Homo sapiens: one gene and its partner. The protein of the gene in region 2 interacts with the protein of the main gene of each other region in a pairwise test. Each region holds a gene or a part of one and is shown on either strand. Other genes may lie near its edges.

The links. The genes of interacting proteins can lie anywhere in the genome.
Region 1: the proteins of ZMAT5 (region 2) and RBPMS2 interact in binary tests that used the Homo sapiens proteins (3 or more experiments, as listed by UniProt).

Annotation. Positions count from the first base shown.
Region 1 is NC_000015.10:64,773,682-64,777,496, forward strand, and holds the start of RBPMS2 (RNA-binding protein with multiple splicing 2), read right to left. Parts: upstream 1,909-3,815; 5' UTR 1,639-1,908; coding exon 1,552-1,638; intron 1,063-1,551; exon of another isoform or gene 975-1,062; intron 771-974; exon of another isoform or gene 756-770; coding exon of another isoform or gene 753-755; intron 1-752.
Region 2 is NC_000022.11:29,764,943-29,768,542, forward strand, and holds the start of ZMAT5 (zinc finger matrin-type protein 5), read right to left. Parts: upstream 2,066-3,600; 5' UTR 1,930-2,065; intron 1-1,929. Other genes in the region: UQCR10 (cytochrome b-c1 complex subunit 9), read left to right, coding at 2,457-2,606.

The sequences.
Region 1 (3,815 bases), on a different chromosome or scaffold from region 2:
AGTAGACCCTTTAGCAGAAGTGGGGTTCTGGGTCCCCATTCAGCTTTATAGGAGACATGCTCTCCCCCAGTTTCAGCCCACAGCAGGGGGCCAAGCAGAGACTCCAAGTACGCTAGCAACCCTGTCACCCTCCCCAACTGTCAAGGGAGATTCTAACAGCCAGGTAGAGTCAGGATGGGGGCAAGATCCCCAAAGCCAAGGGCCTTTTGGCATCAAGGTACAAGGAGGGCAAGGCCTCTGGAGCCCAAACAAATCCACCACACTTAAGTCATTAGTGGACAGATGTCACAGTTGTATATTCTTCCCTTCCCCTTCCGCCAAAAAGTGGAGATCCAAACCTAGATTGTCATCGACTGGGGCTGGCTGAAGGTCTCTGAATAGCCGAGTGGGAGCTGGCGGCGCTGAGCCCAGCCCAGCCGAGGGCCACCGGCGCCATTCTGCACCAACCCCCAGCACAAGGGGAGGAGGCAACACCAGTCCACACCAGGGGCTCTGCGGTTTCTCCCCCAGGCCAAGGGGAAGGGCGCCCAAGGTGGATAACCAGCCCTTGGTTTCCTGGGCGAGAACATGCCAGGGCAGGGGCAGGAAGGCTCTCTCACCCCTAGAATGACGCAGCAGAGGCCAGAGGCCCTGCGAAGCCTGTCCCCTTCTACTCCAGTTCTTGTCTCCGCCAGCCTAGCTCCTCGTCCCTATTCACTGATATCTTTGAGGCTTTTATCCAGCACCCCACCCCGCACACACATCCTCCCTACCATCCATTAACCACCCAGCTGCTGGTGGTTCCACGGAGCCGCCTTACACTCCCTCCCTTTCGCACATGGCCGGTGGACGAGATGATTTCGCCCCTCCTGGCAGGATCCCACCCAGGCCAGCTTTGGGGTCCTGGCTTGGTTGCCAGGACAAACCCAGAGAGAGGAGAAGGACGAACTGAGTGTCTTTAGTCATCTTCCAAACTAATTAAATTGTGGGCTCACCTCTGCCAAAGCCCAGGTTCTGGGGCTGTGAAGAAAGCCCGCCCACCCCCATGACAACAGCTCGCAGGAACCGAGGAGCCGGCCGGCCCAGGCCTCCAAGGTCACGGGGAGGGGGTCAGGGCGGAAAAGGCAGTGGAGTGAGGGTGCCGCCCTCGGGCCGTGCTAATCCCGCTCCGCTCCGTGCCGCCGAGGCGGGGTCCTGGCCACGCAGGAGGTGCGCCTCGGAGGAGGGCGGCGAGCGGCTACGGGGTGGGGAGCAAGGGGCGCGCGGGCGGCAGGCATGGAACGGACGCGGCGCATCTCGCCCACCGCGGGACGCCCGGACGGCGGCCGGCGCGCGCGGCCCGCCTCGAGCCCGAGAGGGCGGGGAGACAATGCCTGTCCGGCGGGGCAGTCCAGGCCGCACGCTCCCGCCCGCGGACACGGGCCGCTCCTACCCGGGCGAGAGGGCAGCGGCGGGAAGGCGCCGGGAGCGATGGCCACCCCGGCCCCGCGAGGCGCGGCAGGCCCCGCTCGCCCTCTCCCGCGCCCGCCTGGCGTGCGCTTCACCCGGCAAGTCCCGGGGCCACAGACCCACCTCCTCCTCCAGGGCGCCGCCGGAGCCCGCGCCGGAGCCGGTGCCGGTGCTGCCGCCGTGCTCGCCGTCCGGCTTCAGGTTGCTCATGGTGCGGGGGAGGGGGCGGCGGGAAGGAACGCGAGGGCGAGCGCGGCGCCGGCCCCGCGGGAAGTGGGAAGGGGCGCGGGGAGCGGTGCGCTCGCGGGTGCGGAGCGGGTGGCGGGGGACCCACGGGGCAGTGAGAGGGGCAGCCTCCGCGTCGGGCCAGGGTCACATCAAGTTTGGCGGGTGCGGAAGGTGGGGAGGGGGTGCGGCGGGGGAGGCAGTGGGAGCCGGAGGGGCCGCCGCCTCCGCCTTTTCACTGCGACCGGCGAGTGCGCCGCGGCGGCGGCGGCGGCGGCAGCGGCGGCGGGGGGCGGGCGCCGGGGGAGGGGGCGGGCGCCGGCGGCGGGGGGCGGGGCCGGAACCGGCCTCAGCTGGGGCCCGGCCAGCCCCCTCCCCCGCCCGCCGCGCGGTCTCCGGGGGAACGCGCAGCCAATCCCCACCGCCCACCGTGGGCTCGCCCCGGCCCCGGCCGCGGGGCGCCGGCCTCCGGCCGGGCCTTTCCCCTCTCTCTCGCCTGGGTCAGCGCTCTCCCTCTCTCCTCTTCCCCCGCGCCCTTCTCCACGGCGAGTTTTTAAACTTTGATGAACTCGCCCGGCGAACTTTCTTAAAGGGGCCGCGCGCTGCGCGCCCCAGCCCGCGGGAGGTGGAGCCCCGTGCCCCGCACCCAGCGCCCCGGTCCCTGGGCGGCCCTGCCCGGGCGGCCTCGCGCTTAGGGCACCCGCAGCGAGGTTTCCGGGCCGTCGACTCCCCTTGTATCTTGATCTAGGGTTTTGGGGTTCCCGACGCACTCATTCTGCCCCTAAATCCAGTCGCGCAGACCTCAGCTCCGGGGGACCGAGTTCTGGGGGTGATGGCCGGGGGGAGGGGGTTGGGAGACACCTGAGCTTTGGCCCGGGCTGGGCGCTGTTTTGCTGAGTGACCTTGAGGAAATCACTTCCCCTCTCTGGCCTCAGGCTCCCAGCCCAGAGGGTGGGACTTAGGATCTCAAACTCCCTTCCCACTCCCAGTCACTATCTGAATAGGACTTAGGTGGGGATTCGAGTGTTGGGACCCCAATGGTCATTAGCGAGGGCTGCCTCGAATGACCAAGAAGGTTCTGTTGCCCACCTTGCCCTCAACACGCCTGGCTTTCGGGTCTTCTCGCTCCTCCCCCGACCTCAGTGCCCCTCACACCTTTCCCTGCCTCCTATTCTGAGCCCGAAGGCTGGGGACGGATGTAATAGCCTAGAGGCTGGGGGAGGTGGGGGAGGTCGTCGTGACTCCCCCCGCACCCCCGCGCAGGTCAGTAGGGCGCGGCCTCTGGGTCGGTTTTCTCTTCTATTTGAAAACCCAGCCGATGGGGGCCCGCCCTGCTGCCACAGTAGAAACCCGCACCCACCTCGGGGAGCGCTGGAAGCGCTGCAGCCTGAATCCGGCAGAGCCGCGGGAGAACTGGGTCCCTCCTCAGTGCCCCTTCTCCTGGACGGGGCGGAGGTTGCGGTGACCCGAGATCTTGCCATTGCACTCCAGCCAGGGCAACAAGAGCGAAACTCCGTCTCAAAAAAAGAAAAGAAAAAAGAAAAGCTGGATTTGCAGTCACGGACTGGTTAGGATCCCAGACCGTGGACAAGTGCCTGAGCCCCCAGAACCTCTGTGTGTCGACCTCCTGAATTAGGTAGGACTAGCACCACAGGATCACTGTGCTGTGGCTTAGTCTTCCCAGTAAATTATAATCTCCATCCTGACCTGCCATCTCACAGATAAATTGAGGCCTAGAGATGGGCAATGTCTTTCCAATGATATACTCATTCCTTTAGTAAATAATTATTGAGCACCTACTGTGGGCTGGGGACCATTTTCTGCTGGTGGCAAGGCCAAGAGCACCCTGGTTTCCCATCAGCCCTGTTGCCAACACTTGGCTCAGGCCCTATGAAGAGGGAGCTGCTGCCTGTAGGAGCCAGACCTTTACCCAGAGTTTTTAAGATGCCTCCAGCCTCAGGCATCTCCAGATAGAACCAACCTTGGGAACCCTCAGATACCCCTACCATCCTCCACAGGCCTCAGTCCAATCTGGCTGTGGGCTTGATCACCATCCCCTCCCCTAGAATAGGTCTTCCTATCAGGTTTGTCTCTAACTTTGGCCCAGGAATACTCTTCCTCTTCCTCTTCCTCCCCCGCTCCCCCTAATCAATCCAAAATCT
Region 2 (3,600 bases):
GGTTTTGAATGCCACCCCTATCCGGATGACTCTTCTCAGGCTCATACCTCTCCTCTAAACTACAGATCCATGTCCTCATTTGCCTCTAGACACCTCCACTTGATGTCTGTTGGCTAGCTCAAACTGATGTGGCCAAAACAGAACTTAAGATCATTCTGTTGATTTTAAATTGTTGAGGTCAAAACTTAGATGTCAGCTGGACGCGGTGGCTCACACCTGTAATCCCGGCACTTTGGGAGACCGTGGCAGGCGGATCACTTGAGGCCAGGAGTTCAAGACCAGCCTGGCCAACATGGTGAAACCTTGTCTCTACTAAAAATACAAAAATGAGCTGGGCGTGTTGGCATCCGCTTGTAATCCCAGCTATTCAGTAGGCTGAGGCATGAGAATTGCTTGAACATGGGTGGCAGAGGTTGCAGTGAGCCAAGATTGTGCCACTGCACTCCAGCCGCACAGAGTGAGACTCTGTCTCAAAAAAAAACAAAAAACAAAAAACAAAAAAAACTTAGATATCCTCCTCAATTCCTCTTTCCTGTGCACCCTACACACATCTGCTAGCTTGCTCTGTCTGCCCTCCCTCCCAAATTACATCCCAAATCTGATCACTGCCCTGCTCCACACCCTAACCTAAATTACCACCCATCAGGCCGGGCATGGTGGCTCACGCCTGTAATCCCAGCACTTTGGGAGGCCAAGATGGGAGGATCACCTGAAGTCAGGAGTTTGAGACTAGCCTGGCCAACATGGTGAAACCCTGTCTCTACTAAAAAAAAAAATTAGCCAGGCATGGTGGCAGGCGCCTGTAATCCCAGCCACTCGGGAGGCTGAAGCAGGAGAATCACTTGAACCCGGGAGGCGGAGGTTGCAGTAAGCCGAGATAGCACCACTACACTCCAGTCTGGACGACAGACCGAGACTCCATCTCAAATAAATAACCACCCATCTTCCCTCAAATGATCTACTACAATAACTTCCCCCTTGCGGTCCACTCTCCATAGACCAGCCAGGATGATGACATTAAAGTGCACATTAAATCTTGTCGCATTTCTCCTGAAAACCCTTCAATGGCCTCCTAGTGCAACTAGAAAAAGACAAGACTCCTTGGCCAGACGCGGTGGCTCACGCACCTTGGGGGGCGAGGCAGGAAGATTGCTTGAGCCCAGGAGTTGGAGACCAGCCTGGGCAACACAGTGAGACCCTGTCTCTAAAAACAAAAACCAAAGAAAACAAGACTCCGTAAGGTGGGTTCCAAGGCCAGACATGAGCTGACCGGAGTCAACCTCTTCACAGTCCACTCTACTTCTTTCCCTCAAACATCCCAGGACTGTAGCTGCCTCAAGGCCTTTGCACCAACGTTTTCCTGTTCAACTCTACTATTCATTCAGGTCTCTAGTCAAGTGTCACCCCCCAGAGCAGCTACCCAGGGTGCAATGTCACCACCACTGCCTCTCCAGTCAACCAAAGCACTATCTGTTTGCTGTACTGCATCTCCCCACCCGCCCACTCCGTAGATTGAGCGCTCTGTGAGAGCAAGGACTTTGTTCACTGCTGGGTCCCCAGAGCAGGGACCAGAACAGGCGCTGGGAAAACATCTGTTGAATGCCCCAGGTACTCCAAAGCCCTTGCTCTTTTCAATCCCAAGCAGGTTCCAAGTCTCCAGCCTTCCAAACCAGGGTTGCCCGGTGCGAAGCCCAGGGGTGAGAGGAACAGGAAGCAGGGCAGATCCGTCCCTGCCCTTAATCCAGGGTGAAGGGTTTAACCTCCAGGACAAGACTTTTGCCGCAGGCTCCAGCTCCTGGCCTAGACTTGGGGCTGGTGCAGGGGACAAGGCGAAGAGTTGAGCCAGGGTCTCGGGAACCCAGCTGCCCTCGCCCCTCTATCCACACCCTATCCCAAGAAATGGTGCGTCCCGCCGCAGGGCGTACGCACAGAGAAGGAAGTGTTCAAGTCTTCCAGTGCGGAGAAAAGAGACTAGGACTCGCCCCTCGACGTCTCGCGGAAGGTACCTGGCTCCCCGGTGGCTGCAGCTCCGGGCTCCTCCTCCTGCGTCCTCGCGTCGCGTACTGCTTGCTGGGATTCGTAGTCTCGCCTTGGCCATCAGTTCGCCCTTCCCAGAGAGCTTTGGGAATCTAAGCCGGGACTGGGCGGAGGGCGGGGAGAAGGTGATGGCGCGCGAGGGCTTCTGGGAGTTGTAGTTTGACATATTCTAACAGCCAGGAATTCTGGAGAAGAAAAATTGGGTAATAAATCTTATCAGATTATCTGGGCTGTCCTGATATGAACCTTTTGAGTTTTTTTCCTCATTCCCAGGATAGGAATACCTCTGTGGTTCAAAACACGAAGGCTGAGATTCAGAGGAACTACAAATCCCATAAAGTGTTGCACGTCTAGGGCCTTTGGGGAACGAGGTCGGCCCCAGCGCAGGCGCGGTGGCGCGAGTTGGACTGTGAAGAAACATGGCGGCCGCGACGTTGACTTCGAAATTGTACTCCCTGCTGTTCCGCAGGACCTCCACCTTCGCCCTCACCATCATCGTGGGCGTCATGTTCTTCGAGCGCGCCTTCGATCAAGGCGCGGACGCTATCTACGACCACATCAACGAGGGGGTGAGGGCCTGTGCCATCCCTGACCTTGGACCCGCCTGAGGGGTGACAGTGGAGTAGAGGTGGGATGGGACTCAGTATACTTTTACCAGGAAGGGGGTAAGGGGTAAACCGTCGGCGTCTTCTGTCTCGAGTCCGCCGTCTGTCCCCTTGGCTTGATGTGAATTCTAAAACGTTAAGCGAGGTTAATATATTTCATTTTGCAGGGGTTGTAAGTATTGCTGTGTGCCACCCTACATACCCACTTGCCCATTATCAGAAGCAAAAACTAAAGGCTAGTGAGAGCAAAGGACTTACTAGCTGCACAGGAAGCCAGGGGCAAGTCAGGGCCAGAAACGGGACCCCTGTCTCTCAGAGTTTCAAGGGCAGATTTGAGCAGGCGACGGTCGTGAAAAGGACGTTAGACACCTTAGACGCCGTGGCTGAAGTTTCAGACGGCGCTTCTGGTCCCCAAGGCTTCCCACGTAGACAGTTGGTATTAATGGTTGAGAGTGGGGGCTATGAAATCAGAAAGCCTTGGATAGGAACACTGGTCCTTGTCACTTAACTGTGGCATTAAGTTGAGCAAGTTTCTTCTCTGAACTCCGTTTTAACTGTGAGATGGAGATATTAATAGTAACCTGAGCACGATTGTGAGGATTACATGAGATGCAGGCAGGGTGCCACATGCCTGGTAGGTGGTACCACTGAAAAATAATCATTGCTTACATTCCTCAGGAGAAAGTGGAAGCATGAGGTAGGAATCGCAACACATTTTTGACTTTTATGTATCATGCACTGTGCTAGGTGCAGTGCATGCTTTATATCGCTAAATTATGACTGTGCTGGAGTAGGCCTTATACATATAGCCCTGTTCCACCACTCACTTGTGTTTTTAATTTGAGACTGTCTGACTCTGCAGCCCGGGAAGGCACTGTCCACTAGTGCTATGCTGCCTGTGACCAGTGCAACTTCCTGCCCCATATGAAAGCATTGCTACTGTCCCATCTCTTGCAAG